4 linked regions of the Homo sapiens genome follow. The protein of the gene in region 4 binds, or shares a complex with, the protein of the main gene of each other region. Each region holds a gene or a part of one and is shown on either strand. Other genes may lie near its edges.

What was found.
Region 1: TAF1C (region 4) and RRN3 share a complex: the UniProt entries of both Homo sapiens proteins name them as parts of the pol I pre-initiation complex.
Region 2: TAF1C (region 4) and TBP share a complex: the UniProt entries of both Homo sapiens proteins name them as parts of the transcription factor SL1/TIF-IB complex.
Region 3: TAF1C (region 4) and POLR1B share a complex: the UniProt entries of both Homo sapiens proteins name them as parts of the pol I pre-initiation complex.

What each region holds. Positions count from the first base shown.
Region 1 is NC_000016.10:15,061,357-15,069,320, forward strand, and holds part of RRN3 (RNA polymerase I-specific transcription initiation factor RRN3), read right to left. Parts: intron 6,922-7,964; coding exon 6,813-6,921; intron 4,016-6,812; coding exon 3,863-4,015; intron 1,928-3,862; coding exon 1,840-1,927; intron 550-1,839; coding exon 388-549; 3' UTR 1-387. UniProt on the Homo sapiens protein: Required for efficient transcription initiation by RNA polymerase I (Pol I). Required for the formation of the competent pre-initiation complex (PIC).
Region 2 is NC_000006.12:170,565,596-170,573,559, forward strand, and holds the end of TBP (TATA-box-binding protein), read left to right. Parts: intron 1-1,322; coding exon 1,323-1,414; intron 1,415-4,016; coding exon 4,017-4,184; intron 4,185-5,814; coding exon 5,815-5,909; intron 5,910-6,590; coding exon 6,591-6,670; 3' UTR 6,671-7,264; downstream 7,265-7,964. UniProt on the Homo sapiens protein: The TFIID basal transcription factor complex plays a major role in the initiation of RNA polymerase II (Pol II)-dependent transcription.
Region 3 is NC_000002.12:112,555,965-112,563,928, forward strand, and holds part of POLR1B (DNA-directed RNA polymerase I subunit RPA2), read left to right. Parts: intron 1-1,945; coding exon 1,946-2,117; intron 2,118-3,328; coding exon 3,329-3,610; intron 3,611-7,964. UniProt on the Homo sapiens protein: Catalytic core component of RNA polymerase I (Pol I), a DNA-dependent RNA polymerase which synthesizes ribosomal RNA precursors using the four ribonucleoside triphosphates as substrates.
Region 4 is NC_000016.10:84,173,121-84,180,936, forward strand, and holds the end of TAF1C (TATA box-binding protein-associated factor RNA polymerase I subunit C), read right to left. Parts: exon of another isoform or gene 7,748-7,816; intron 7,225-7,747; coding exon 7,050-7,224; intron 6,964-7,049; coding exon 6,826-6,963; intron 6,732-6,825; coding exon 5,821-6,731; 3' UTR 4,735-5,820; downstream 1-4,734. Other genes in the region: DNAAF1 (dynein axonemal assembly factor 1), read left to right, coding at 1,549-1,602, 2,813-3,179, 4,394-4,486, 4,609-4,721. UniProt on the Homo sapiens protein: Component of the transcription factor SL1/TIF-IB complex, which is involved in the assembly of the PIC (pre-initiation complex) during RNA polymerase I-dependent transcription.

The sequences.
Region 1 (7,964 bases), about 69 Mb from region 4:
ACCATGGATCTGACAAAAACCCATGTTAAAACAGCAACCCGTAAAACAGTCTGCTGCCTATATTAGAAATTACCCAGTAATTGTGTCAAAAAGCTGTTAACACAAAAAATGTACATATTAAACAAGCAAATCCTTCCAAATGTATCATCAACCCCACTGTAAAAGATTGCACATGATAGTCTTCATTTTGTCTGTAAGGGGAACAACAACAACAAAAAAACCCAGTCTTCAGATGCTTGATTCAGTCGAACCTGGAAGTGCCACAGCCGAGGCAGGCACTCGCTCTAGTTCAATGCCATCAATGCCCAATGGCACAAGCTGGGTGCTGAGGGCATGACAAGTGATGGGGAATCCCAAATGTCACATCTCAGTCACAAATTTCTGCCGTCAGAGGGGACTGGGTTGCATGTACAACACGGGTGGGGAGCCCACACTACTTGAAGGACTTCGGAAATGCGTGTCAAAGGAGCTTGGTGTGATCCCAATCACGGTATCATTCTGGGGCACTTCGCCTTTCAGAAAGTCATCATCTTCATCTTCCACTATGTCCTGCAGAAACATCAGAAATCATCAGTAACATCACCAGTGCTGACTGAAAAGCTTTCAACAATTCCTTCCTCAGGAAGGTGTTAACGTTTGTAAAGATGGTGAAGAAAATATCTTAATTTCAAAAGAAAGCCAGTGTAGTGGCACACGCCTGTAGTCCCAGCTACTCAGGAGGTGGAGGTGGGAGGACTGCTTGAGCTCAAGAGTTCCGAATCCAGCCTGGGCAACATAGCGAGACCATGTCTCTAGAAAAACAGAACAGAACAAAAGCTCCCTCTGATAAGCACTTCCTTCTTACCAACATACCCACATAACTGCTCATCACACATTGTAATCATTTGTTTCAAGTCTGACTTGCAAACAGATTTGAAGCTCAATGGGGACAGGAAACATGACGAGTCATTCTTGCCCAGTGTTAGGAACTCTTGTACCTAACACAATGTGAATGAATTACACGCCCCTCAACAAATGAAACATAAAGAAAAAGATGAAAGGGGCTTTCCAATGATTACTTATTAAAAACAACAACAAAAAAGCCATCTTGAAGCTGCTTTTAATGAGAAAACAAATGTGCTCCCAAGCAACAGAGCAGCGAAATTCTTTATTACTGGATTCTAACTTTCCTCTCTAACTGTAACTGTCTCAGCTCCACCTCATGTGACCTGGAGGGTATGTTGCAACCTGCGTCTTCACCACCCATTCATGAAGATCTATAAAACTAATGTAAACTGCTGGGGCAATTTCAACATGAGTCAACTGGAGATTGTTACTTGGTAAGAATGCGCAAGTGGCAAAGATCTAAATTCATTCAGCTAATTTGTAATTAACCTTCGCTTCTCACATGTCAGTATGTGAAGTGTCTGGTTTAAGCAATTTATCCAAAAAAGCCATAGACTCTTTAAATAACAACAAAACCTGGGCCTGGAATTTTATAAAGGCAGAATGAGTAAGACACGGTTTTGGTGTGCTTTTTTAAAGAAAACAGGGTCTTGCTCTGTTGCCCAGGATGAAGTGCCATGCTGCATTTACAGCTCACTGCAGCCTTGACCTCCCACCTCAGCTTCCAGAGGAGCTGGGATTACAGGTGTGCACCACCACGCCCAGCTAATTAAAAAAATTTTTGTAGAAACAGGGTGTCACTGTGTTGCCCAGGCTGGTCTCCAGCAATCCTCTGGCCTTGACCCCCTAAAGTGCGGGGATTACACGCACGAACGACTTGCCACTTACTATCTCACTGTGACCTGGAACCAGAAAGGAGATTCCGAGAGTGTGCTCAATCAATCACAAACTGACCTTTTTCATGGGTTTCTTGAACTCCTGTAGCTCTTCAGCACTCATGTCTTCCCACACCTGATAAATAGGATCAATGAATTTCTTTGACCTGTCAACAAAGATCACATTTCAAAGTCAAGTTAAATACTTCGGCAGAAGTCAAAATTGGTTTGGATCTTTTCTCACAAGATCTATTACCCAAAACCAAGAAGTGAAAACTACAGCTTAAATAATTACATTTAAAAAAAACCTGGCTGGGTGCAGTGGCTCACGCCTGTAATCCCAGCACTTTGGGAGGCTGAGGTGGGCAGATCATGAGGTCAGGAGATCGAGACCATCCTGGCTAACACGGTGAAACCCCATCTCTACTAAAAATACAAAAAATTAGCCGGGTGTGGTGGCGGACACCTGTAGTCCCAGCTACTCGGGAGGCTGAGGCAGAATGGCCTGAACCTGGGAGACGGAGCTTGCAGCGAGCCGAGATCGCGCCACTGCACTCCAGCCTGGGAGACAGAGCAAGACTCTGTCTCAAAAAAAAAAAAAAAAAAGAAAAAAACAAAACAAAAAAACAACCCTCTATGTAAATGCTGTAACTAATGTGGCTCTTTCTGTATAAGAGTTCATTCACTCATGTCGATGGAGTATTGAACTACCGTTTTTCATCTTTCCATTTTCATGTGAAATTGTTTCTAAACTTTACAAAGACTCACAAGTCAGTTAGATACAGTATATCCAAATGGAAATGAAACCGTAATATTCTGGAACTCTCTTTTTTATATTTCTGTAGTAATTTGCTGAAAAGTAAGTCTAGGAAAAACAACTAATCTGGTTTCAGTCAACCAAGACTTCAGGGACCAGACAATCCCAGATGGTCATGATGCTGCTAGTTATTTTAGAAACCATAATAAGCAAAAATCCTGCTTCCTTATACAAGTGCCAAGTTAAGGCTGGCCCAGTGGTTTTCTAGAACAACTCATCTAGATAAATCGCTTTTTGTTTTTTTTTTGTTTTGTTTTTCTGAGACAGAGTCTCACTCTCTCGCCCAGGCTGGAGTGCATTGGTGCAATCTCGGCTCACTGCAACCTCCACCTCCCGGGTTCAAGAGATTCTCCTGCCTCAGCCTCCCGAGTAGCTGGAATTACAGGCGCCACCACCACACCCAGCTAATTTTTGTATTTTTAGTAAAGACAGCGTTTCACCATCTTGGCTAGGCTGGTCTTGAACTCCTGACTTCAAGTGATCCGCCCGCCTCAGCCTCCCAAAGTGCTGGGATTACAGGCATGAGCCATTACGCCCAGCCAATCGTTTGTTTTTCGTTTATCCTGTGCAACAGAATGGTATGTGGTCTCTAGAGGAAGGAACAAGACACTTGGCAGAAAATTATGAAGCAAGAAAAGACAGCACCCTCCCCTATCCTGGCACCATTATCCCCATTAACCTTACATGTTTAAATAACAGTTTAAAGAAAAACAAAAAACAAAAAACCCTTGATGTCAGTCTGGCTCCTAGTGAGGCAAAGATCTACCCACTCTGGGGTGCCTGCGCCACTCGGCAAGTCCTGCTAGGCATCCTCTACTTTGCATCTGGTGAAATATACGCAGGGAGACCACGAGATGCTCATCAACAGCGAGGAAGGGCCACTTCTGGTGAAGAGCCCTAAATCCCAATTTTGGGAAAAGCAAACATGTATCACGTTTAAATCCACCTCCTGGCCGGGCGCGGTGGCTCACGCCTGTAATCCCAGCACTTTGGGAGGCCGAGGCGGGCGGATCACGAGGTCAGGAGATCGAGAACATCCCGGCTAACACAGTCAAACCCCGTCTCTACTAAAAATACAAAAAATTAGCCAGGCGTGGCAGTGGGTGCCTGTAGTCCCAGCTACTCGGGAGGCTGAGTCAGGAGAATGGTGTGAACCCGGGAGGCGGAGCTTGCGGTAAGCCGAGATCACACCACCGCACTCCAGCCTGGGCGACAGAGTGAGACTCCGTCTCAAAAAAAAAAAAAAAATCCACCTCCTCCAGCGTCAATGTTTAAAAGTACCTACCTCTTCAGCACACAGGGATCAAAGGGGAAGAAGGTGTCCAGCGGGTTTGTGCAGATCTGCACTGAGTCTCCTCCAGCGGTACTCCTAATGACTGGCAGCATCTGGCGATTGTTCCTCTCAATGATGGTGTAGCAGAAGACGAGCTGGTACTTACTGTGGAACAAAAAAACAACACAGACAGAGGCATTAACATGCTGGAGTGACTCGGTGCAGATGTGAGCTGCGTGTGACAACTGTACCTACCACAGAGAAATTGCTGAATATAACAAGTGCTAGTAAAAATAACAATATAAAGCAGAAAGTAACACTTTTAGGGTACCGTTCTATGGGTCTTCTATTTGCAAGTTTGCTAAGGAGAAAGAAAACGTGGCTATCACTCAGAATGTGAAACTGGGCTTATATTTTAATGAGTAATAGATATTATTCATTATATTTTAATGAGTAATAGATACTATTCATTAAAAATAAATGTTTGCAAGGCAAAACTCTTAGATTACGTAACTATAGGTGTCTTTATTTTTACTGTTTGCAAAAGAATTAGAAGGTTGGTGGTAAAGGGATTCAGGAGTTACTCAGGAGGAAATAGTGGTTGGTGAAGAGACTTGCTGAAGAAGCACTGAAAAAGAAATAAGCCTTTACTGAAGGAGGGACACGGGGTTGACTAAGTCATGACCTCAAAAACAGGCACAGAAAGGACTAGGCATGCCGAGTGAGAACAGTTAAATGCATAGAAGAAAACATAAAATAAAGACAATTATGTTTTTAATTTTTCCAGTAGTTGTCTCTAAATGATTGAGCAACTTGAAAAATTATCTATTGGACAGCTTCTCCAAGATGAGGACTCAGATCTCACTTCTGTCACTCTCCATCTCAGGTTCTCAGGTCACCATGGCAACTTCAAGCCACATACTTTGATTTCTGTCCTGTTAGCCAAGGCTCACAGCACTTGACCCCTCCTCCTGGTGGAGGACACATCAGCAAAACCACACTGGAGGGTGGTTTGCACTATCAGGTAAAGTTGAAGATCTGCATCTCCTACAACCCCGCAGCTGACCGCACTTCCGGGTGTGTGACAAGGAAGCATGTGCCCACACACAAGAATGTTCCTGAGCACTAAAACACTAACACAGCCGGCTGGGCACGGTGGCTCACACCTGTAATCCCAGCACTTTGGGAGGTTGAGGCAGGCGGTTCACTTGAGCTCAGGAGTTTGAGACCAGCCTGGTCAACATGATGAAACCCCATCTCTACTAAAAATACAAAAATTAGCTGGGCGTGGTGGCAGGCGCCTGTAGTCCCAGCTATTCGGGAGGCTGAGGCAGGAGAACTGCATGAGCCTCGGAGGTGGTGGTTGTAGTGAGCTAAGATCACGCCACTGTACTCCAGCCTGGGTGACAGAGCAAGACCTTGTCTCAAATAAAAAAAAAAAAAAAGACAAAAACTAACAGATGAAATCCCAACAAAGACTCAATAAAAAAGATTCCCAGAACATAACACAGCAGTTAAAATCAAAATAAAGCTTTGTGTCAATATGGTTCAATCTCAAAAGCATCAAGCAGGCAAAAGCAACAGCTACAGAATGGTACACGCCTTTATTTACCATATCTGTACCTAGGCAGAGACTTTTATTTCAATCCCCTGCTCTTAGCCTCACATCGCATCACACTCTGTGCCTCCAATGCGCATGCCAACCCCAAATCGAGAGCCCCTGGACCAGATGGTTCACAAATGCAGTCCTCTGTCCCCACCCCGAGAACATACCAGGGGCAGCGGCCTCTGCTTTGCTTCATCCATCCTCACTCTTTGAGCTGCTCACCATCTTAACCAACGTGCTGAAGCCTCCACCCACTCACTGCCGTTGCTTATTGGTCTCTTTATGCCTTTTCCTAATCCTTTACTATCACTGAGACTCAGAAGAGAGGACACCTTGAACCAGACGCCTAGCAAAGGAGAACTAAAGAGGCTGACGGAGCTCAGCAAGCTGTTGGCTCTTATCTGTTGAAGATTTTAAGCTATGATCCGGCCTAAATATCCTCATTGAATATTCAATTCTCCAATTCGCTTTCTCCATAAAGCAGAATAACTTAGTGAAAGCTTACAAAGGAGCCAGACTACATTTAAATCTGTGCTGCCAGTCTAGCTCTATGACTTTAGGCAAGTGATTTCACCTCTCTGTACCTCCACCTCCCTGTTGATAAACAGGGTTTCATCCTAGAGGATCAAATGAGTTCTATGTAAAGTGCTTAGAACTGCCTGGCACAGAGGAAAGGCTATGGATTAGCCATAGCTACCAGACCTGAGAGAACAGAACTCTCTAAACCAATCTCTTACAGGTCAACATTTGCCTCATGTCCAGTTTATTTCTATTACTATTACAGGAGTCACTCTAATAAGCATCTATGGCTTTGCCCCTCTCAGCTTACTGGTTGCCATACTTATTTCAAAGTGCTGCCCTTTGGATAAGAAGTAGTAGTAATTTCCAACGCCATCAAAGTATAAAAACAATAGCTGTATCACAGTATTTCCTGCAAGGACTGGGTTGTTTTTGTTTGTTTAAGAGACAGGGTCTCATTCTGGAGCCCAGACTGGAGTGCAGTGGTACAATCAGGGCTCACTGCATCCTTGACTTCCTGGGCTCAAGTGATCCTCCTACCTCAGCCTCCTGAGTAGTTGGGACTACAGGCACAGGCAACCACACCCAGCTAATTTTTAAAATTTTTTTGTAGAGATAGGGTCTCACTATGTTGCTCAGGCTGGTCTTTTAACTCCTGGCCTCAAGCAATCCTCCCACCTCAGCCTCCCAAAATGTTGAGATTACAGGTGTCAGCCACCACGCCTGGCCTTTTATAATGTTACTAATTTCATAGAAATTTAACACTCTTACAATACTAGATAAACATAAATAAAAATATTTTAAATAACTCCCATCAAGAAAGCGTAAATAACTTACTTTGTGATTGCAGCAAAAAAGTTAACCACTGAGGGCAGGCAAATCTTCAGGGGATTTAGCTGGCTCATCACTATCCGCTCAAAATTCAGACTCTGAAGATACTGCAAACCTTTGGTTTAAAAAAAAAAAAGATTTTTTTAAAGGTACAAATAAGTGAAAAGTGTAAGATACTTTTAAAAGCACAAATTATCACACATTTAAAAAAAACTTTAAAAAATTATTTGCAGAAATGCTTTAAATAAAGGTCCATGCAGATAGTCACACAGTATATGGCCCAGAAGAGTATCACTAGGCTAACCACATTCATTGGTCACCAAGGCAGCTTCTCTAAAGAAAACTTAGGAAGTAGCAGGCTGTAAGATTCCACGACAATGTGAAATTCATATGTTTGCAAGCTCAGTGTATGCTGAGATAATACAGAGGGAGAAAAGACCTTGTGATTTGGTTTCAGCTAACAATCATGACAGGCAACAAAACAAAACAGCAATTTGATTCTAGCTTGCATGTCTTGTTAGTGAAGCTGAGTGCTGTTTTCAGGTGCACAGTAGTCATCTGTAGTTTTTTTTCTAAACAAGAAAACTCCAAATTTGCCTTCTACCTCAACGGACGGCAAATTTAGACAGAAACCACTTTCTTAGACTTAATGAATATAATTCTTTTCTACATGAGTAAAATAAAGACATCACATTTATTTTAAGAGGCAAGCTGACCAACTTGTACTTAAGTATATTTTCTTAGGAGTTTCTTTGATACGTATTTCAATAAAAATTACCTAAATGGGATGTCACAGCTTACAAAAACAAGATATTTAATCCAGATTCCTGGCATTAATTTATACAAAGAAAAGCAGAGCTTGTATTTACTTACCTTGTGATAAAACCTCATCCTACTAGTTCATACAACATCTTTTAGAAGCATGTAGGATGTAGGTAAACATATATAATGCAACACATACAACTTTCAGTTTAGAGCTGTGGCTGTTAACCCAAGGAGACTGCGACCCCCGCAGAGGACACCTGGCAGTATCTGGAGACACTTTTAGTTGTCACAGCTGGGGGTGGTCGGGGACTGCTGTTGGCAGCTAGTAGGTGGAGGCTGTTAAACATCCTACAGTGCAGAGGACAGCCCCCGACGATGAAGGATGATGCAGCC
Region 2 (7,964 bases), on a different chromosome or scaffold from region 4:
TTGAATACATAATTTTATTACTTTACGTTCTTAAGTGATATTTAACCAATAAAAATAGTAGAGGAAATTCTGGAAATTCAAAATAGCTAGGCTTTTCCTGGGACGTATATAAACTACTATATACTGCTAGCTTTTTTAGATGTTGATAAAATCACAGGGAAGACATAGAGCAGGTTTTAAACTAAAATTGTTAAAAGCCAGGCATGGTGACTCAGACCTGTAATTCCAGCACTTTGGGAGGCCAAGGTGGGAGGATCACTTGAGGCCAACAGTTCAAGACGAGCCTGGGCAACATAGCAAGGCCTTGTTTCATCAGAAAATTTAAAAAATTATCTGGGGTTGGTGGCACACACCTATAATCCCAGCTACTTGGGAGGCCAAGACAGAAGGATCTCTTGAGCTCAGGAATTCGAGGCTGCAGTGAGCCATGATTGCACCACTGCACTCCAGTCTGGGCAACAAAGTGAGACTCTTGTCTCTAAAAAAAAAAATTAATAAAATAAAAAAATAAAATTGTTAAAGCAATCTAGTTTGTCAAAGAGTCGTCTTAATTAGAAACATGTAGGTTTTTATTGTATAATTAAATGTATTAAAATATTTAAGTTGTTTCAAAGTAATTATTTGCTTTTTATCATGTACCTAATAACTGAGGCCATTAATTCAACCCACAGTTGAAATATTTTCCCCTTGAGTTACCACCTTAGCAAGAAAATTTTCTGAAAGAATTAACATGTTTCAAGCATAAAAAGCAGAAAATAAAAGTTAAAACTGTGTTTTTTTCCTAATTTGCATTTATGTGTTTAATACATTAATATTGTTTCTAAAGACCAATTGAAAGCATGATTTTACTTCATTACGTATTGATAGGCTTGTAATCTGATTTATTAATTCCATTAAGGTAGAAAAGGTTTATTGGTTTATTTGCCTCAAAATTCATATTAATAAAACAAAATGTATCAGAGAAGCTATAGTCATGATAAGCAGCAAATATAAAGTAGAAACAGAAGCACTTGTATTTATTGAGAACATAACCAAATTTTGCAAACATTTCTCTTGATGGAATGCTCATGTGAAAGAACATACAGATTTGGTATAACTTAGTCACAATTGATTATTTTCTGCTCCTTATGCAAAGGAATATTTGTTACATGTGGTGTATGCAAATCCTTTACAGATATACAGAAATACAGAACAAATATTTTGATAACTAGATGTACTATGTCCTTCCTACCAGTTGTGATTTTTTTGTCAATGGGTGGTTCGCCTAACAACATTGAGCAGTTTGGCATGACCTCACTAATGATTCTCTCTGACCATTGTAGCGGTTTGCTGCGGTAATCATGAGGATAAGAGAGCCACGAACCACGGCACTGATTTTCAGTTCTGGGAAAATGGTGTGCACAGGAGCCAAGAGGTAGCCGTAAGAAATTCATTCTTCTGGTCTATGGGTTATGAATGAAAAGGTGATATCTCATTGTTTTTAGGTTATTAGGTTAGCACTTTAACATGTTATTATTGCTTTCTTATAAAAACCATTTTAATATGATTCTATTAATTATTTTTATTTATTTATTTATTATTTGATTCTATTAATGTTAGATAGCAGTGATTTCATTTTCTTAAAAATTAGATATGGGCAGGCGTGGTGTCTCACCAAGGCGGGCAAATCACTTGAGGCCAGGAGTTCGAGACCAGCCTGACCAACATGGTGAAACTCCATCTCTACTAAAAATACAAAAATTAGCCAGGCGTGGTAGTGGATGTCTGTAGTCCCAGCTACTTGGGAGGCTGAAGCACGAGAATCGCTTAAATCCGGGAGGTGGAGGTTGCAGTGAGCTGAGATCATGCTACTGTACTCCAGCATGGGAGACAGAACAAGACACTTTCTCCAGAAAAAAGAAAAAAATTAGGTAAGATGTAATACAACATCAGAACTATTAATAAAATTCCCTTTATGTGAAAAATGTTGTAAATAACACAAATACATCTTGAAATGGAAGAAAAAATTGATCAAGAATTAAAACACTTCTAAGCTAATGGTGTAAGGGCTTTGCAGACCTTATTGGGCCTGGCAGCGTGACAGCATCACATGTGTTGGCTGCAGAAACCTGCCTTCTCACTGGAACTAGCTTTCATTAATAGTGTTTGAGTTGTGCAGATCTTAAGGAATGCACCCTTGTTATAAAATGTCATTGCCTATATTCTCCATCTGAAGTGATCCTGTCTGAAGGTTAGTACTCTGCGGCCCTGACTGTTCTAAACAGAGCTTATATACTTGGTAGAAGTCAAAAACTAGGGGGAAAATTAGTGACATTAGCTTCATAAATGAACTGAACAAATAAACTAAAACTTTTTAAATGAAAGAGTATTAAATGTACTTGGAGGTATCAACACATAGAAGGGGGCTGTGGATATTTTTGCTTATTCTGAAGTTTGAAATTGTCTTTCAGTGATGGGAATGCCATTGGTGTGGACATTCTGGCTCCTGATCTCCGAGGTTTTTCAGAATGCAGGACAAGGATGTGTTCTTGCCTTTCACTTCCCCTTGGCCACAACATGCAGTAGTAACCTCTTTAATTAAGAGCGTTTTTGTTTGCTTGTTTTCCCCTGCATGGAACATCAGAAACTTTTGGTTTATCAAGGCAAGCTTTTCATGCAGCATTTAGCCTTTTTGTCCCAGAGCATCTGAAAACTGAATATTGTATATGTAGTTGGATGACTATTTCATCAAGACAAGAAACCACCAATACATTTACCTGAAATTTAAAAGCGTAGCATATATATATATGCTTGATTTTTGTTCTTCCTGATCCCCTGCACCTGATAGTCTCTTTATGGTAATATTTTCACATTCTTTTTTGTTGTTGTTGTTGTTTTTGAGATGGAGTCTCGCTCTGCGCCCAGGCTGGAGTGCAGTGGCATGATCTCGGCTCACTGCAAGCTCCGCCTCCTGGGTTCACGCCATTCTCTTGCCTCAGCCTCCCGAGTAGCAGAGACTACAGGTGCCCACCACCATGCCTGGCTAATTTTTGTATTTTTAGTAGAGATGGGGTTTCACTGTGTTAGCCAGGATGGTCTCAATCTCCTGACCTCATGATCCGCCTGCCTCAGCCTCCCAAAGTGTTGGGATTACAGGTGTGAGCCACCGTGCCCGACCTGCCTGCCTGCCTTTTTCTCTTTTATTTTTTCTTTTTTTCTCTTCTTTCTTTCTTTCCTTTTCTTTTTTTTTTTTTTTTTTTTTTTTTTTGGTGGAGTCACCTAGGCTGGAGTGCAGTGGCACAATCTTGGCTCACTGCAACCTCCACCTCCCAGGTTCAAGTGATTCTCCTGCCTCAGCCTCCCAAGTAGCTGGGATTGCAGGTGCCTGGCACCATGCCCAGCTAATTTTTGTATTTTTAGTAGAGATAGGGTTTCACCATGTTGACCAAGCTGGTCTCGAACTCTTGACCTCAGGTGAGCTATCCGCCTTGGCCTCCCAAAGTGCTTGGGATTAGAGGCGTGAGCCACCATGCCTGGCCCACATTCTGCTTTTCTTATGTAAGCTCTGAACTGCTAAGTCGTAGTTTATTCAACAAATGACATAGGAATGTCTATTCATGATGAGTCTTGGTATAAAAGAGGATAGAATTAGTGAATACATTGTTCAATAATAAATCTCATCAACATTTTCTGATCAAAATGAAGTTTGTTAGTTTTCCTCTCAGTAGAAATGCATGGGCTAAAATACAGAAATAGTGATGACTGATGATGGTGATAATTCACATCCATAAAATCTAGGGCTACAATAATTTGGCGGATTGAAAGGTCATTTTGGCAGGCCTACAGTTTTCTGTCAAGGATCCAGGAATACTTTATAAGGAATTGTGAATGCCTGTCAGTCTTTTCTCCTATTGCAAGAAGGCTGACCAGTTTACACTTTATTAGTTTACTGTTTTGGACTTTTTATAAGTTATTAGTCTAAATAAGTATTTTAGCTGGCTCTGAGTATGAATAACTCACTTTTTTCCTTTCCCTAGTGAAGAACAGTCCAGACTGGCAGCAAGAAAATATGCTAGAGTTGTACAGAAGTTGGGTTTTCCAGCTAAGTTCTTGGACTTCAAGATTCAGAATATGGTGGGGAGCTGTGATGTGAAGTTTCCTATAAGGTTAGAAGGCCTTGTGCTCACCCACCAACAATTTAGTAGGTAAGTCTGAAATGTATTATGATTGTTATTGGCAACAGTTCATTTATAATCTAAACATTGTTCAGAATAAAACACATGCAAAATATTCAGTATATGAGAACAGTTGACATGGTTATAGTTGTATGTATTCTTGCATTGTCTTCCTGATGTTCTCAGTCATATTTATCACCCTCACCAGCCTCTGCTTCCCTTATCACTTTGCGGTACCCATAACTCCCCTTTACTGGAATGAATTTGATTCTACTTCTGTATGTTTTATCGTTTTATTGCTGAATACACTTGGAATGCATGAATTGACCCTAACCTTGTATCAATTTTTTTTCCCAGTTTGGATCTTCTCTTTTAGTCAACATTGTGTCAGATCTACCAGCAAAGTGTGAAGTTGAGCGATAGGAACAACTTTCTAATTATCTTCCCTGCTACTTGCAGGTGAAGACTCACAGGCAGGCAGCCCTGCCCACCTCACTGCTTCATCTCATGGTCTTCTGGTGTCTGTTCACAGGCACATTAGTTCTGTGTGCCCCTGGGGCTCACTTGGTTCCTCCTGCCCTAGGCCTTTGCACTTGCCACTTTTATGCCTAGTATGCTCATTTCCCTTTTCACCTAGGAAGCTCCCACTTGAGTTCCATATGTCTACCCATTCCACTCTTCCTCAGAGAAGCCTGTCCTGAATTTTGTCTTAGGTCAGACACACAGAAACAGAGGCATCCTGTTTTCAGTCTCTCCGAACTGAGAAAAATGAGATTACTAGGCTTAGAAGAATATGTACCAGGCCTGGCCTGGTGGCTCACACCTGTAATCCCAGCATTTTGGGAGGCCGAGGCAGGCAGATCAGTTGAGTTCAGGAGTTCAAGACCAGCCTGGCCAACATGGTGAAACCTCGTCTTTACTAAAAATACAAAAATTAGCTGGACATGGTGGTGCATGCCTGTAATCCCAGTTACATGGGAGGCTGAGGCAGGACAATCATTCGAACCCAGGAGATGGAGGTTGCAGTGAGCCAAGATCGTGCCACTGTACTCCAGCCTGGGCGACACAGCAAGACTCCGTCTCAAAAAAAAAAAGAATATATACCAATAGTCCATTCAGTCAGACAGCTTAATCAGGTATAGGTTAATTCTCAGGCTAGTATATAAGTTTGATTAAATTTCCTGACCACAATTGTCAGCTAGAGAATATTTCAATTTAAGGAGGTAAGATATGATTAAAAGTTAAACTGTCAGTATTGGATCTTAGAAGTAAATGATTATTAGGACTGTAATAGTAATTATTAGGACTGTAAAAGTAAAGGATTATTATCTGCATTAGATATCATTATATCTAATGATATAGAGACTGCAGACATAACTACAGGGCTCTTTTTCTTAAATCAGAAAATCCAGATTCAATAGAAATAGGGTAAAGTGATAGGAGGACAAATAGCCTTCCATCCAGTGGTTATCAACTGACGACTACAAGTCGGCCTCACTTGCTTTAATTATTCTATTCTATCCTTTGATGCTGCTTGAAGAACTGTGTTTTACCTCTTGACTAGTTTGTTTATTCAGTATTTTTCCTTGTACAGGTCCTCATTTTATCTAAAAGCACACAAAGCTCTTGATTTCTAAACTTTTTGCAATTTTCCTTCTAGTTATGAGCCAGAGTTATTTCCTGGTTTAATCTACAGAATGATCAAACCCAGAATTGTTCTCCTTATTTTTGTTTCTGGAAAAGTTGTATTAACAGGTAAGTTGTAACAGGAAGTAGTATCTGAAAGTTTGTAAGTGTTTTGAGTATGGCATTTTCTCAGTGCTGAAAAGAAATTTCAGTGTTCGGACAGTGGGCTAGCTTCTTGTACAAAGGCCTCCCACCCAAAGTCTGATGAGAAACGTGCCCACTAAAGGCACAGTGAGAGCAGGGAAGTCTGACCACAGCTCTGCAAGCAGACTTCCATTTACAGTGAGGAGGTGAGCATTGCATTGAACAAAAGATGGCGTTTTCACTTGGAATTAGTTATCTGAAGCTTTAGGATTCCTCAGCAATATGATTATGAGACAAGAAAGGAAGATTCAGAAATGAGTCTAGTTGAAGGCAGCAATTCAGAGAAGAAGATTCAGTTGTTATCATTGCCGTCCTGCTTGGTTTATGGCCTGGTTCAGGACCAAGGAGAGAAGTGTGAATACATGCCTCTTGAGCTATAGAATGAGACGCTGGAGTCACTAAGATGATTTTTTAAAAGTATTGTTTTATAAACAAAAATAAGATTGTGACAAGGGATTCCACTATTAATGTTTTCATGCCTGTGCCTTAATCTGACTGGGTATGGTGAGAATTGTGCTTGCAGCTTTAAGGTAAGAATTTTACCATCTTAATATGTTAAGAAGTGCCATTTCAGTCTCTCATCTCTACTCCAACTTGTCTTCTTAGGTGCTAAAGTCAGAGCAGAAATTTATGAAGCATTTGAAAACATCTACCCTATTCTAAAGGGATTCAGGAAGACGACGTAATGGCTCTCATGTACCCTTGCCTCCCCCACCCCCTTCTTTTTTTTTTTTTAAACAAATCAGTTTGTTTTGGTACCTTTAAATGGTGGTGTTGTGAGAAGATGGATGTTGAGTTGCAGGGTGTGGCACCAGGTGATGCCCTTCTGTAAGTGCCCACCGCGGGATGCCGGGAAGGGGCATTATTTGTGCACTGAGAACACCGCGCAGCGTGACTGTGAGTTGCTCATACCGTGCTGCTATCTGGGCAGCGCTGCCCATTTATTTATATGTAGATTTTAAACACTGCTGTTGACAAGTTGGTTTGAGGGAGAAAACTTTAAGTGTTAAAGCCACCTCTATAATTGATTGGACTTTTTAATTTTAATGTTTTTCCCCATGAACCACAGTTTTTATATTTCTACCAGAAAAGTAAAAATCTTTTTTAAAAGTGTTGTTTTTCTAATTTATAACTCCTAGGGGTTATTTCTGTGCCAGACACATTCCACCTCTCCAGTATTGCAGGACAGAATATATGTGTTAATGAAAATGAATGGCTGTACATATTTTTTTCTTTCTTCAGAGTACTCTGTACAATAAATGCAGTTTATAAAAGTGTTAGATTGTTGTTATACCTTGTAAGAGTCATGTGATCATACTGTTTTCTACAAAGTTGTATTTTAGATATAATGCCTGAAACCATTTTGGTGTTTGCTTCAGTCAGTATTTCATTGTATGCTGCAATGAAAACAGATTAATGATCTGAGAACCTTCCATATATTGAGCAACTCCTGTTTTCTAGGTATTTTGCATACAATGCCTGGAATCCTCACAAAGCTTCAGTTACGTTTTGTTCCTCTGTTGGAGGTGAGGAGATAAGGAAGCCCCAGCTGAGGGACTTGGCTGAGGTTACACAGCTAGTAAGTGGTAAAAATGAGTGAGTCCTTCAGGTGTAGAAGCTGGTGCCCTATCCACAGGCTGCCAACTCTCTGCAGTAACTTTTTTTTGCTTGTTTTGCAGTTTTTTTCTCATGGACTATCAGGTGGACATTTGTGGGTTCTTAGGTTTTATTGTTAGAGTGGTTTGTTGTTTTTAATTGTAAAAGTACATCTTCAGCTGACTCAGGAATAAAATCAGAAAGGGGAGGTCCTTCCTTCCTTTCTCTTCTGCCTCTTTCCCCAAGATAACGACCAGATTAGTGGGTATCTTCTAAGCCCTGTTCTGTCTATCTTCTGGGCATGGCATTTGATCCCATTTTTGGAAAAAAGAAATAATACATTCAATTTTATAGCTTTCCCTTTTTTCAGTCAATATATCATAA
Region 3 (7,964 bases), on a different chromosome or scaffold from region 4:
AACACTTCAGTTAGCCTTTCTGGTTTTGATTTTAAACCCAAATAAGGAAGTAGACATAGTTATGAAAAAAAAGGGAGAAGAACACAAACAAATCAGTTGTCAAGATCCAGGGCTTCTTATTCCATCTTGACTGTGAAGATGAAGTGTTCAGTGTACACCTGATAAAAACATTTATGACACAGGAAGATGTAGGCTCAAGAAAGGAATCTAAACAGCAACCAGCAGAGGTGGAGCAGTGATGCCAGGCTCTTCTACTCAAACTTGATTCTCTAGTTTCACTTGATAAAGTCCAAACCTACATTAATACCCTTGTTGGGTGAGCTAACAGCTTCCTTCACTCCCTGGTAATTCCCTTATCTGTACATTACAGATTTTTAGCAGTGTACTTACAAATCCTACTAGTGTGTAGTCAGTTGTGAGATTCATTGTAACATTTTATAAAATATATTCCTTCTTCCCACACCTCTCCAAAATTTATTCCTTCCAAGTACTAAAAATTTAATATTACTGCACCACAGTGATATTAAATGCAGTGTCAGTGCCAGAGAATATGCAGAAATGAAATGTGTCACTTCCAGTGCTGTCTTCTGGAAGAATAGTTAGGTCTTCCAAGTGTGAGTGTTCAAACACTGATAGTTTGAAGAGGTGGATTATCAATAGTCAATGGCTAATGTGTTGACTCAGGGGCCTGCTGGAAAAGGTATACATGAGTGACCTATGTACATCTTCCACGTTTTCTTCCAAATATCAAATATAGGAGAGAACCTATCTCAAACATTCTCTTAGGTATTTTCAGTGGTTTCTGAACCACCCATAGAAAGCGCTGATGGTGTATAGTCTTTTTTTCTTTTATTTTTAGTTGACATGTAATAACTGTACATATTTATCGGGTATACAGTGATTTTTCCATATATGTCAATAATGTATAATGATCAAATCAGAGTAATTAACACATTCATCACCTCAAACATGTATCATTTTTTTGTGTTGTGAACATTCGAAATCCCCTCTTCTAGCTTTTTGAAAATATACAATAAGGCTGGGTGTGGTGGCTCACGCCTGTAATCCCAGCACTTTGGAAGCTGAGGCAAGAGGATTGCTTGAGCCCAGGAGTTTGAGACCAGCCTAGGCAACAAAGTGAGACCCCCATCTCTACAAAAAAAATTTAAAAATTAGCCAGGCATGGTGGCACATACCTATGGTCCCACCTACTTAGGAGGTTAAGGCAGGAGAATCCCTTGAACCCAGGAGGTTGAGGCTGCAGTGAAAAAATATACAACAAATATAGTTAACTGTATTCAACCTACATTGCTGCAGAATACCAGAACTCATTCCTCCAGTCTAGCTGTAATTTTGGAATTGCAGGCTGCTTTAGGCTTTTCACTTAGTGTTGGCAGCATAGATTAAGATGGACTGTGTAGTTCGTGTGATTGGTTTTAGATGTATAACAAGTATAATGGGTGAAGGAGGGCATCACATTGAAGAGCTATCCTTTCTGCACCTGAAAAGCCCTCTTTCAGGTTTTTGGTTTTGATGTATGTTAGTAGACGTTTGTTAAAGATCGTACAGATTACATGGGAATAAATATGAAGTTTGTGATAATTGAAACACATACTATTTTATTTTATTGAGAATAGGGTCTTGCCCTGTTTCCCAGGCTGGAGTGCAGTGGCACAGTCATGGCTCACTGAAGCCTTAGGCTCCTGGACTCAAGCGATCCTTCCGCCTCAGCCTCCCAAGTAGCTGGAACTACAGGCACGCCCCACCCCCTCACCCCACCCCCTCTGGCTAATTTTTTTGTAGACAGGGTTTTGTTTCACCATTTTGCCCAGTCTCATGTTGAACTCTTGGTCTCAAGCGATCCACCCAATCCTGGGATTATAGATGTGAGCCACCACACCTGGCTCACATACTATTTTATATTAATTTTTTTTCCTTATTTCAGGAAAAACTGGAAGGTTGGTTAGTGTCTATTAAAATAGCTTTTGATAAGAAGGCTCAGAAGACCAGTGTTTCCATGAACACTGACAATTTGATGAGGATTTTTACAATGGGCATAGACCTTACAAAACCATTTGAATACCTTTTTGCTACTGGGAATCTGCGTTCTAAAACAGGTAAAATTAAATCGATCGTTTTAGTTATGTTTTTCAAATTAGTTGCTTAGTGTAGATTTGCCTGTCCCTGAGAGTTCTTTTTAAAAGCAAACCCCACGAAAAAAGTAAATTTCTCATAACTATGACTTCGACAACTATTGGTCTAAAGGGCTTTAGACAAGGTGTCTGTATAGCTAAAATTTAATTCAGATAACTGAATACATTTTCTCTGCTTCCTTCTAGAAAATGAAAGGCCACTTAGACCTCTGAGGAAGGCTTACCTAACAGGAACTCTAGATGGGTTGCTGTACATGCCCATCTCTAAACCATTTGCCTTGCCTCAGAGTGACCTGAGAGGCCAGGTGTGGTGGCTCATGCCTGTAATCCCAACACTTTGGGAGACCAAGGTAGGAGGGTCACTTGATCCTAGGAGGTCAAGGCTGCAGTGAGCTGTGATTGCACCACTGTACTCCAGCCTGGTGACAGAGTGAGACCCTGTCTCAACAAAAAAGAGAATGACCCTAGAAACTTAAAAAGTGGTAATTGGGAATTCAGAATTTTTTTTTTTTCTTTTTTGAGTCAGGGTCTCACTCTGTCACCCAGTCTAAAGTGCAGTGGCAGGATCATGGCTCACTGCAGCCTTGACTTCCCAGGCTCAGGTGATCCTCCGACGTCAGCCCCACGAGTAGCTGTGACTACAGGCATAAGCCACAACACCTGGCTAATTTTTGTATTTTTTGTAGAGATGGGGTTTCGCTATGCTGCTGAGGCTGGTCTGGAACTCTTGAGCTCTGGTGAACCACCCACCTTGGCCTCCCAAAGTGCTGGGATTATAGCATGAACCACTGTGCCCCGCCTTTTTTTTTTTTTTTTAAACCCATGTTACTGTTGCCGATTCTTTCATTAGCCTGCTTTCTTGCTTGTCTATTATCTGACTCTCTCAGATGAATTTAACTACTTGCTATTTTATTAACTCATTTAATGTTCACCCACAAAGGAGGTCATAGAGGAGACAGGGAACTAGTTGGGGCTAATACAGTTTGTGAAATCTGGGGATTATTTTACATATTTTTTTGTGAACTCTTTACACTCATCAGAGCTAGGAGAATAAATGTTGTAATAATTCATTCTATGATCTGTAGAGTGCTCTGAGGTTTTGTCGTCATAAAGCCTCAACAATTTCCATTTTTCAAAAGATTGGCCCATTTTTGAATGACTTTTGTTTTATTAAGGTCTTGGCCTCCTACAAGATTCTGGACTTTGTGTTGTGGCTGACAAGCTGAACTTCATACGCTACCTCTCCCATTTCCGCTGCGTGCACAGAGGGGCTGATTTTGCCAAGATGAGGACCACCACAGTACGCAGGCTGCTGCCAGAGTCCTGGGGCTTCCTTTGTCCCGTGCATACCCCAGACGGGGAGCCCTGTGGCCTGATGAACCACCTAACTGCCGTATGTGAGGTTGTCACACAGTTTGTGTATACGGCATCTATTCCAGCTTTACTGTGCAACTTGGGTATGTAGTGTACAGTGATAAACATCTTGTTTGGTTATGTGGGTTTTTTTGTGTTCTTTTTGTTTGTTTGTTTTGAGATGGAGTGTTGCTATGTCGCCCAGGCTGGAGTGCAGTGGCGCGATCTTGGCTCACTGCAAGCTCTGCCTCCTAGGTTCACGCCATTCTCCTGCCTCAGCCTCCCGAGTAGCTGGAACTACAGGCGCCCGCCACCACACCCGGCTAATTTTTTGTATTTTTAGTAGAGACAGGGTTTCACCGTGTTAGCCAGGATGGTCTCGATCTCCTGACCTCGTGATGTGCCTGCCTCGGCCTCCCAAAGTGCTGGGATTACAGTTGTGAGCCACCGCGCCCGGCCAAGGTTACGTGGTTTTTAACCTGTTAAGTTGTGCTGCTTTTGGAGATTCAGCAGAGATTTTCTGTAAGAATTCTTTTTTACTCTTCTGTGCAGGAGTTGGGCTGCTTTCTTGGCTCCTCTGTAGAAGGCCGAATGCATTCTTTGAAAGTGAAAACAGGAGAAACTAAGTGTTATAGGTACTTTGTTTTCTTTGGGAAAAAAAAAAAGATAATGGAAGTGAGGATCGCTTGAGCCCAGGGATTTGAGGCTGCAGTGAGCTGTGATTGTGCCGCTGCTGCACTTTAGACTGGGTGAGAAAGTGAGATCCTATCTCCAAAATGAAAAATAAATGAATAAGAATGATGCCAAAGCATTCGAAATAGACTAGTCATTAATATTGGAAGTATAGAAGCTATTGAGTAGTTTTTTGGGTCATTTCTTTTTGCATCTCTTGGCGGATCTTTGCATTTCTAAATAGAAAACAGTGTTGGTTTGCAGGAGGACAGTTTAAAAGGAGGTTTCCCAGTCTACCCTGATATCATCAGATATATAACCTTTTTTCCTGATAACCTTAAAGCTGCTGTCTCTGTCTCTGCTTGGCTTGATACTTGGTTTGAATTTACTTTCATACCTAAAGATGTCAGCCTTCTCTGCAGTCTTCTAGTCCCAGGGTTCTCCATTTATGATTTGGAGACAGAAATGTTCTGTCTTTGGTGGTCTGTGGACAGGGTCCTCAGTGGGATTAATATGTGTGCAGTAAAACTTCCAGTTCATGGGGATCAGATGATAAGTGTTCTCAGGCAACTAGAAGGGCATTGACTCAAGAAAGTTCTGCTTAAAAGTACTTCTCCCAATTAGAGTGGCCTGGCCGGGCGTGGTGGCCCATGCCTGTAATCCCAGCACTTTGGGAAGCCGAGGTGTGCAGATGACTTGCGGTCAGGAGTTTAAGACCAACCTGGCCAACATGGTGAAACCCCATCTCTACTAAATATACACACACAAAAAAATTAGCTGGGTGTGGTGGCATGTGCCTGTGGTCCCAGCTACTCAGGAAGCTGAGGCAGTAGAATCACTTGAATCCAGGAGGTGGAGGTTGCAGGGAACCAAGATTGCACCACTGCACTCCAGCCTGGGTGACAGAGTGAGACTCCATCTAAAAAAAAAAAAGAGAGAGAGAGTGGCCTGTAAGAAGAGGGCCCTACAGAAAGTAATCAAGAAATACTCAAGATTCAGAAGATGTAATCAGCGTAATTTGAAGGTTTATCCTCTACGAGGAAAAGAATTTTGTTACTCGTGATTCAAAATGTCAAAGTCCAGGAGAGGGTAGAAAGGAGAAAAGAGAAAGTGGAGAGGTAGAAAGTATATCCAACTGCAGAAAAAGAGATGGGGAAGGGTTTTTTGCTCTAGCACTGGAGAAGAAGACGGAATCGCTACCTAACTTTCGATAGAGATGTTCATATTGTGGTGACAGATGAAACACGAGGCAGGTAACTTCTGACACTCTAACAAACACTTGATGTCTTCAGAATGTATTTATGGTTCATGGAAGAGTGTTCTTTTTTTTTTTTACTTAATTTCAGTTGATTCTCATTATTTGTAGTACTCATCTTTAAAGTTACCAGTGAATATTGAACCATTGTGCCTAGGGGAAATACAGGGTAAGGTTCCTTCAAGCCTCGGGTTACAACATTTTTGTTAGCCGATCAATATGTAGCCTTGTTTTTTGTGTGTTTCTGTTGAAAGACACCCTTTAAAAATATATATTGTTCACGTGGTAACATTGAATTCTCAGCCAACAGCAGTGTAATTATAGGCTTATCTAACACACATGTTTTTCTGTTAGGCACATCACACCTTTTTGCATTTATGAACACTAGGCAGCACTTCAGTGCTGCACTCGGAGGCAATTTGTTTTTTCTGTTTGTTTGTTTGTTTGTTTGTTTTGTAGAGATGGGGTCTTGCTATGTTATCCAGGCTGGTCTCGAACTCCTGGCCTCAAGCATTCCTTCTGCCTTGGCCTCCCAAAGTGCTGGGATTGCAGGTGTGAGCCACCATGCGAAGCCTGGAAGCTGTTATTTAAACAGCTTCCAACAAAAAATCACACCAACAAAAAGCACAAAAATGCTGAAAACGTGCCAGTGAACAGACTGGGCAAGGGGCACTTGTTTATAGTATGAGCTGACAAGAAGGCATGGCATCGTCTTGTTTGACTTCAGCTGCGGGGAGCATCTGCATCGGGGGACTCAAAGTTTTTTGCTGCATGTTCTGAAATGACTTTGAAAGCATCCCCAGTATTAATTTTGTGGTTACAGAGATAATGTAGCAAGTAGGCAAATGTGCACATAATGAGGATTAACTGTAATTACATTTTGGGGGTTAATGCATTTAATGCATTTAGGTGGCTTAGAAATAAAAATATTAAGACATACAGTGAAATGCTCCCTCCCATAGGCCCCTGTCCCCTTGCTACTTCTTTCCTGTGTGTCCTTGCTGAAGCAATTTAAACTTCCACAAGCAATACAAAAGCCTTCAGGCTTACCCCGGAGATATTGCAGGTTTGGTTCCAGAGCGCTGCAATAAAGTGAGCCACATGAATTTCTCGGTTTCCCACAGTGCATATGAAAGTTATGTTTACACTATGCTGTAAATATTTCAATTTTAAGAATACTTTATTGCTAAAAAATATTAAATCATCTGACCCTTCAGTAAGTTGTAATCTTTTTGCTGGTGGAAGGTCTTGCCTCAGTGTTGCTGGCTGCTGACTGATCTGGGCGGTGGTTGCTGAAGGTTAGGATGGCTTGTGACAATTTCTTTTTTTTCTTTTTTTTTTTTTTTTTGCGACGGAGTTTCGCTCTTGCCCAGGCTGGAGTGCAGTGGCGCGATCTCGGCTCACCGCAACCTCCACCTCCCAGGTTCAAGTGATTCTCCTGCCTCAGCCTTGCGAGTAGCCGGGACCACAGGCATGCACCATCATGCCCGGATAATTTTTTTTGTATTTTTAGTAGCGACGGGGTTTTTCCATGTTGGTCAGGTTGGTGTCGAACTCTCGACCTCAGGTGATCTGCCTGCCTCGGCCTCCCAAAGTGCTGGGATTACAGGTGTGAGTGACTGCACCCGGCCAGCTTGTGACAATTTCTTTCTTTTTTTTTTTTCTTTTTTTTTTTGAAATGGAGTCTTGCTCTGTCACCCAGGCTGGAGTGCAGTGGCGTGATCTCGGCTCACTGTAAGCTCTGCCTCCCGGGTTCACGCCATTCTCCTGCCTCAGCCTCCCGAGTAGCTGGGACTACAGGCGCCCGCCACCACGCCCGGCTAATTTTTTTGTATTTTTTATAGAGACGGGGTTTCACCGTGTTAGCCAGGATGGTCTCGATCTCCTGACCTCGTGATCTGCCCGCCTCTGCCTCCCAAAGTGCTGGGATTACAGGCGTGAGCCACCACGCCTGGCCTGTGACAATTTCTTAAAATAAAACAAGTTTGCGACACCAATTGCATCTTCCTTTCACAAAAGATTTCTCTGTAGCATGTGATGCTGTTTGATAGCATTTTACCCACAGAGGAGATTATTTCCAAGTTGCAGTCAGTCCCCTCAAACCCTGCCGCTGTTTTATCAACTAAGTTTATGAAATAATCTAAATCCTTTATTGTCATTTCAACAATGTTTACAGCATCTTCTCATTTCTTGAGATCCCATCTCAAGAAACCATTTCTGCTGGGCACAGTGGCTTAGGCCTGTAATTCCAGCACTTTGGGAGGCCAAGGCGAGAGGATTGCTTGAGCCCAGGAGTTCGAGACCAGCCTAGGCAACACAGGGAGACCCTGTCTCTACAAAAAAAAAATTTAAAAATTAGCCAAGCATGATGGCACGCACCTGTCAGCTACTCGGGAGGCTGAGGTGGGAGGACTGCTTGAATCTGGGAGGTTGAGGTTGCAGTGAGCCATGATCATGCCACTGCACTGCAGCCTGAGCGACAGAGCAAGACCCTGTCTCAAAAATAAAACAAACCCATTTTTTTTGCTCAT
Region 4 (7,816 bases):
CTGGTGTTTCTAATGTTCAAACTTCAGAATTTCACATGGCCCAGTAGGAGTTAAAGTGATCGGCCAGGCATGGTGGCTTACGCCTGTAATCCCAGCACTTTGGGAGGCCGAGGTGGCTGGATCACGAGGTCAGGAGATCGAGACCATCCTGGCTAACATGGTGAAAACCCATCTCTACTAAAAATAGAAAAAAATTAGCCAGGTGTGGTGATGGGCACCTGTAGTCCCAGCTACTTGGGAGGCTGAGGCAGGAGAATGGCAGGAACCTGGGAGGTGGAGCTTGCAGTGAGCCGAGATCACGCCACTGCACTCCAACCTGGGCGACAGAGCGAGACTCCATCTCAAAAAAGAAAAAAAGAGTTAAAGTGATCACGGTCAGAATTCACAGTGGGTTTCTAGTTTTCTGGAGCTATGTAAAAAAAAGAAACAAAGGCCAGGTGTGGAGGCTTACACCTGTAATCCCAGCACTTTGGGAGGCCAAGGTGGGTGGATCACATGAAGTCAGGAGTTTGAGACCAGCCTGGCCAACATGGTGAAACCCCATCTCTACTAAAAATACAAAAACATAAAAAATAAAAAAAATAAAATTAGCTGGGCGTGGTGGCAGGTGCCTATAATCCCAGCTACTCGGGAGGCTGAGGCAGGAGAACTGCTTGAACCTGGGAGGCGGAGGTTGCAGTGAGCCAAGATCTCACCACTGCACTCCAGCCTGGGCAACACAGCGAGACTCTGTCTCAAAAAAAAGAAAAAGAAAGGGACATAATTGGGCAATTTATCTCTCACATTTGAGAACTGACCATATAGATAACTACAACACTAATAGCTAATGTTAATTGGTTTCTTATTATATGGGTGACACCATTCTAAGCATGACTTGTATTGATTGATGTAACCCTTCCTACAACTCTAAGCAGTACATACTATTATCATCCCAATTTCCCAGATGAGGAAAATGAGAAACAGAGAGGTTAGGCAACTTGCCCAAAGCCAGACAGCTAGAAAATGGTGGTGGGGGAGTAACAACCTAGGCACCGTGGCTCCAGTTCATGCATCCAACCACACACTATGCTGCCTCCCCAACCACGCACTGGTTGTTATGGACAAAGATACCGAACAAACACCCACAATACAAAACAAAAAAGTCCTACAAGTTTTGGGGAGGTACAAAATATATTACTTTTATACCACATAGAGTTTTCGGACTAGTTTGTACAGAGGTGCATTTGGTTTGGGTCCCATTATTTCCCCCAAGATGAACTGGCTGTGTCTCTTAATAAAAAAGCAGAAAAAAGATGTGGAAATTCTTTAAACACGTCACACCTTGCAAGTTCCCTTTCATTTATTAGATCCAGACACCTGAGGTGGCAACGCTTGCTTTGTGTGTATCTAGAGTTCCTTTTGGTGGGGAACAGGCAGGCGAGTCACCTGAGTGATTTGAGTAACTGTAACTAAGGCTGGGTTGACTGCGTGTTTGCCTTTATCGTGCCTATCAGAACGTTGACAGTGCGTGTACCTCCCTGGTGATGTGCGGCTCACTTGCTCTTTCAGGACCTACCTGACTTGGAAGATGATGATGAAACAGGCAAATCTCTGGAAGACCAGGTTAAGGTCATTAGAAACCATTTTCCCACAGGCAGCTTAATTCCACCTTCGTTCTTGTCGTTTACCGTTTCTCTCCTAAACTTGAAAGTAAAATGTTCCCTGTGCATAAAGCATTGAATTCCCCCATATTCTTTTTCTTTTCTTTTCTTTTCAGGCAGAGTCTGGCTCTGTCACCCAGGCTGCAGTGCAATAGTGTGTTCTTGGCTCACTGCAACCTCCACCTCCTGGGTTCAAGCAATTCTCCTGTCTCAGCCTCCCAAGTAGCTGGGATTACAGGCATGAGCCACCACGCCCAGCTAATTTTTGTATTTTTAGTAGAGATGGGGTTTCTCCATGTTGGCCAGGCTGGTCTCGAACTCCTGACCTCAAGTGATCCACCCGCCTCAGCCTCCCAAAGTGCTGGGATTACAGGCGTGAGCCACCGCACCCAGCCCACATCCCCCATATTTTCACCTTGCTGAAGGAAATGCCATTTGTTCTTGTTCAATTTCTTTAAGATTTTATGATGAACCACTTGAAAATCTATTGCTGGTTTGTAACAGCTGAGTACAGTGCATAGTTAGCTGAAAGTACTTTCTGTCATTAAGATGTATTTCTATGTCCATCCTATGAATGTCTGTCTGAATATAGGGGAAGGAAATGAAAACAGGAGAGGGGAAAGAAAGGGGTGAGTCTGTGAGGCACAATGGGGAATTCTCTCAGAGTGACGTGACCCTACTCCACCCAGAGGCCATTACTGGCATTACCAGGAGCCCACACGTGCCAGACCCGTACCCTGAGGGAGAAGGAGGCATCAGCCATCATCTCTGAGCACGAGCTCAGCAGCAAAGAAAACAGACACAGTTACTGTGGGGGGCCTGCTGTCCAAGGAGCTAAGTCCCAGAGAGTCTGTGAAGGAAACGGGGTTCAGGGGCATGCCAAGCAGAGCCCAGGGCTCAGGGGTGCGCCCTCTCAGGTACCAGGAGGGTGAGGAATAGCCAGTGGCTGGGGGAGCAGAGGGCAGAGAGAAGGGCATAGACATGAGCTGTGCCCAGGGAGTGGCCACCCCCAGGCCTAACTTTCAGAGTCCTGTGTTCCCTTGGGCCTTTCTTGGATGTGGCAACAGAATACTTTGTGACATTGGGTGAAAAAGCAGAACTGGCATGGTGCATTGTAGAGCGATTCTGTTGTGAAAACAGAAACTTTCAGACACCTTTTCTTCTGTAAATAGAATATGTGCTTTCCGAAGATTGAGGTCATCTCGAGCTTGAGTGATGACAGTGACCCTGAACTGGACTACACGTCACTCCCTGTGCTGGAAAACCTCCCCACAGACACTCTGTCAAATATATTTGCAGTCTCTAAAGACACCTCAAAGGCGGCTCGGGTGCCCTTCACAGACATCTTTAAAAAAGAAGCTAAGAGGGACTTGGAAATCCGAAAACAAGACACCAAGTCCCCAAGACCCCTGATCCAGGAGCTCAGCGACGAGGACCCCTCTGGCCAGCTACTGATGCCCCCCACCTGCCAAAGAGATGCTGCACCACTCACTTCCAGTGGAGACAGGGACAGCGACTTCCTTGCAGCCTCTTCTCCGGGTAAGAGCGTGGGGCCGAGAGCACAGTGGAGACAATGTTGGCTCCCCGGCCTGGGATGGGTGGGGCAGGGCAGTCACTCAGCCTTACCCTGAGCTTTCATGTTGCTGGAGGGGTCACCCAGGACAGACCACACAGATCCTCTGAAGGTCCCATTCCTGAGTTCACGGGTCTGAAGCTGCCACTTGCTGGTAGCCAGCCTGGGCCAGGAAGCCACCGAGCCAGCCTCCTCTTGGGCAGCCGAGTCTGACTGTGTGTGGGGGTCACAATCCCCCTGTGGTCATGCAGATCTCCTGGGGCGGGGGCCTAATGACCGTGCATTTCCACCCCCTCCTCACCATCCCTGGCCTCAGCCTTTCTAGACCAGGGCTTTTGGAGGGGACCACCAACACCACTGCTGGGGAGTGTGGGGCAAGCGAGGTGACAGCCACACAAGGGCGTGGCTGCTTCACAGTGACCCAGGCCCGGGTGAATCACAGGCCAGTCCTAGTGGCCTTCAAGGCAGGGAAGGCAAAGGGGCAAAGGGGCACCAGGCAGGGACGGCAGCCAGAGGCCTGGCTGCAGAAGACCCAGAAAAACATGCTGAATGTACCGGGGCCTCCCCTCATACTGCAGGCTGGTACATGTGCCTGGCAGATGCGGTTTTGGGGAGCAGCCGGTTAGTGCTGAGAACAAGCAAGCTGGGACTGTTTTTTCATTCAGCATCTGCCTTCAGGTGCACTCCCAAATTGGGGGCTGTGTGGAGCCCAGACCGTGCTACTCTCATCCAGCACGCATCGGTGGCCAGGCTTTTTCCTGAAGACAGCTGCCTGGCTGACTCCAGACTTGCAGGCAGGAAGCAGGGAGTGGCCTGAGTGCATTTCCCGGGAACACTGAGTGGCCTTCTCTTCCACTCTAGGAACCAGCACAGAAAAGTGCAGTCTGAGCTGGAGCCCGTGCAGCCTCGGGCGGGGGCAGGCCTGGAGGACGTTGAATAATTTGTTTTTGTTTGTTTTGTTTGAGACAGTCTCGCACTGTGGCCTAGGCTGGAATGCAGTCATGTGATCTTGGCTCACTGCAACCTCTGCCTCCTAGGTTCAAGCAATTCTCCTGCCTCCGCCTCTGAAGTAGCTGGGATTACAGGCACCCGTCAAGGGATTTTCCTGCCTCAGCCTCCCCAGTAGCTGGTATTATAGGGGCCTGCCACCACGCCCAGCTAATCTTTGTATTTTTAGTAGAGATGGGGTTTCACCATGTTGACCAGGCTGGTCTCGAACTCCTGACCTCAGGTGATCTGTTTGCCTCGGCCTCCCAAAGTGCTGGGATTACAGGTATGAGCCACCACGCCCAGTTGAGGACACTGAATTTGGCCTGGACTGAACCCCAAGGCTGCCCCCCTGTCCTTGCAGTCACAGTGACAGGGAGAAAGCACAGGTCACCCTTCCTTCCACAGTGCCGACTGAGAGCGCCGCCACACCCCCAGAGACGTGTGTCGGAGTTGCCCAGCCCAGCCAAGCTCTGCCCACGTGGGACCTCACTGCATTCCCAGCACCGAAAGCATCATAGTTTTCCCCAGTTATATGTAGCATAAATGGTTTAATCATAAATGTCTCCCTTAGGCATGATAAACATTTTAACACCCACGCGAGTCAGTGTATGATTGGGCTAGCTCCTGTTTGTGTGAGTCACATGCAATTCCTTTCACCAGCCAACCTGAAAAAAGACCTTTCTCTTACTATGTCATCAGAAACCAGACAGACCCGGGTCCCTGCAAAATCTCAAGTGAGCATTTTCCCCACAGGAAAACAGAATCTTCCACTGCAGCTAGAGAAACTCCGAGGAAGAGGGACTTGATGCTTTAGACATCAAAATGAGAAGGGGAGGGAGGAAAGAAAGGGGGGAGTCTGTGAGGCACAACAGAGAATTCCCCCAAACTGACATGACCGTGACCCTCTGCTCAGAGGGCACTATCGACAGCCCACAGGTGCCAGACCCATGTCCCAAGGGAGAAGGAACATCAGCCATCATCTCTCTGCATGAGCTCAGTGTCAGGTAGTAGCTGTGGCGGGACGCTGTCCAGCCTAAAAAACGTGACCATTCCAATTCATCTTCAGCTGCCAAGTGTATTTAGTCCCTGAACCTGGATCCAAGGCATCTCCCTGTAGGAAACATCAGACCGGGGCAGAGATTGACAAAGCAACCCACAACAGCAGCTGCCAACGGCCGCTGTGCCCACCTCATCAGCAGCTCTGCAGGGGCCTCACTCCACCCTCACCAAACACGAGGAGCCAGCACTCCTGGCCCCCATTCCACTGGACAGGAAGGCGTGAGAACTGAGGGACCTGCCTGAGGCCCCCACAGCTGAGGCGCAGCGGAGCCCTGCCTCCCAGCACAGACTAAAATCCCAGCAACACAGGCCCACCGGCACCTCCAGCCTGCCTTGCGGGATGATCTTCAGGCGAATATACAAAATACAAAAGAAACTACTACTGTATTTTGTTGCCCTGTCCCTTCAACTTGGCTCCAAATTGCTTGGCTCATCATCACAGTGGCCTCCAGAAGGTGGCGAGCTCTGCTTCTCAAGTTTCAACTGTGGAAGGCACATCTGGTCCCAGAGGAAGGATGAGGGGCTCTCTGGGGCTTGAGGGCAGCCCACCTTGTGTCCTCAGAAGCCCATTCGAGGCTTCTTCCGGAGGGGCTGAGAGCTAGAGAGGACGGGTGTGTGCTGCTGGGAGCGAGTGGCCCGGACGCTGGAGGCCTGGGAGTGGGGAGGTGTGGTGGCACAGCCTGGGGTGTCCCTCTGGGGTGGTAGCTTGGCCATGTAGTCACGGAGCATCTGCCGCTGCTCTGATGGGACGCCCTGGGCGCATGCATCCGGAGTCAACTCCTGGGAGGGCGGGGTCGTGGGGGGCAGGGGCAGAGCATCAGCAGGTGGCCACTCAGGGCTATGAGGGGAGCTGGTGTCCTCTGAGGGATCCACATGGCCACTGAGCGAAAAGCTGCTGGACAGCTGGGTCCGGCGCTTGGGCCGCCTGGTCTGTCTCCCGGGCTCCGAGGTCCTGCCCTGCTGCCTCTCCCACCAGGCAGCCCCTCGGCCTGCCCAGGCTTCCCCCAGGCGCTCACTGAGCTTGTCCTCTAGGCCTGACTCGGGTGCAGGGGGTGGCTCTGCCGCAGGGAGGGAGCCCAGGTCTCTCTGCAGCAGGAGCTGCCCTCGGGCCATGGCCTTGCGGAGCACACCCAGCCGCTGCCCTTCCTCTTCCTCCCTCCGCAGCTCTGTGCTGCCCAGCATCTGGCGGTGGGTGAAGGTGGGTGCTGTCCACACAGGAGGAGCCAGGGGCACTTTTAGCAGGGCCTTCAGCCACTGGCTGCAGCCGGCAGTGTCCTGGGAGGTCCAGGAAGCTGTGGGGGCATGGCAGTCAGGTTGGGTGTCGCCAGGAGGCCCAGCATCTCTGCGGAGGCTGGAGTCCACCTGGGGGCGGAGCTGCTGGTAGAAGACATCTCCCGCCGCCGAGAGCTGGAAGAGCACCAGGCCTGGTGTGGGCGCTGAGGGCAAGGGCGGGACGACGGCAGCCAGACCTGGTGACGGGAATGACAATGACCTCCAGGGCCTAGCGGGGGGAGGGGATGTTTTCCACTGCGCCCCCCAAGCTCACTCCCCCACCCAGCACACCTATGGTCGGTGCTTTCAGGCGCTCCTGCAGCCGCCACTGGATCTTAGGCTCCAGCAGAGGAAATGCAGGGAGGGAGTCGATCCTGGAAGGAAGAGACTGGGGGGGGCCTGCCAGGCGGGGCACCGACGCCCCTTCTCCTGAGGAAGGACAGACAGCTGAGGCCCTGTCCAGGCCCCGACCGCCCCATCTCCCACACGCCGCCCACCCTGGCCTGGACCCTCACCTGCCAGGTGCAGCAGCTGCAGCTGCCCACCCTGGCCTCCGAGGAGCAGGGGCTGCACGCAGCTGGGCCGGGGCGGAGGCAGCAGTCGGGCCAGCAGGAGCGGGGAGGGGAGGCCATGGTTCCACTTCAGCATCGGCACCAGGGGAAGGCGCTCGTCCACTAGGTAGAGAGAGAACTGGGGCCCGAGAAGGAAGGGGGATGTGGCCGAACTTGGGAGCTGAGCTGTGTAGTGGCCCTCCAGGCCCCATGTGGCTCTCCAGGTGAGTGCAGAGCCCTGAGGGGCAGCAGCATCTCCCATCAGCCTCCACGTGCCTCTCAGACTTCACCTGCCAGCCCTGAACAGGTGCCGCTTCCTTCACCAATTCTGACCGACAGTCCGGTGGACAGACAGAACAAGTGGGAAAGGGGTGCTCAGAAGAGGTGTGGGGGAGCCTTGCCAGCAGAAACCTGCCTGGCCTTCTCGCAGCCACCCCCACTCTCCTGACCCGGGAGCCTGTGCTCGAGGCACGCCTACGAATGTCCCCGGGAGGGCGGGTGGAGGACAGACCTGCTTCCTCAGAGCCCCCGCCTCCTGCACAGCAGAAACTCTCCAGCTCTGCACGGAAGCCCCACCCCGAGGCCCCTCCTCCCCTGCTCCACCCCTGGCTGCACCTCGAAGCTCTACTAAGGGGAGGCCCTGGGAGAGCTTCCCCACCTGCCTGTTAGCACCGACTGTGGGATCCACTGCGTGTTTGGGCCACAGATTCATCCAGGGTTGAGTTTGGTTT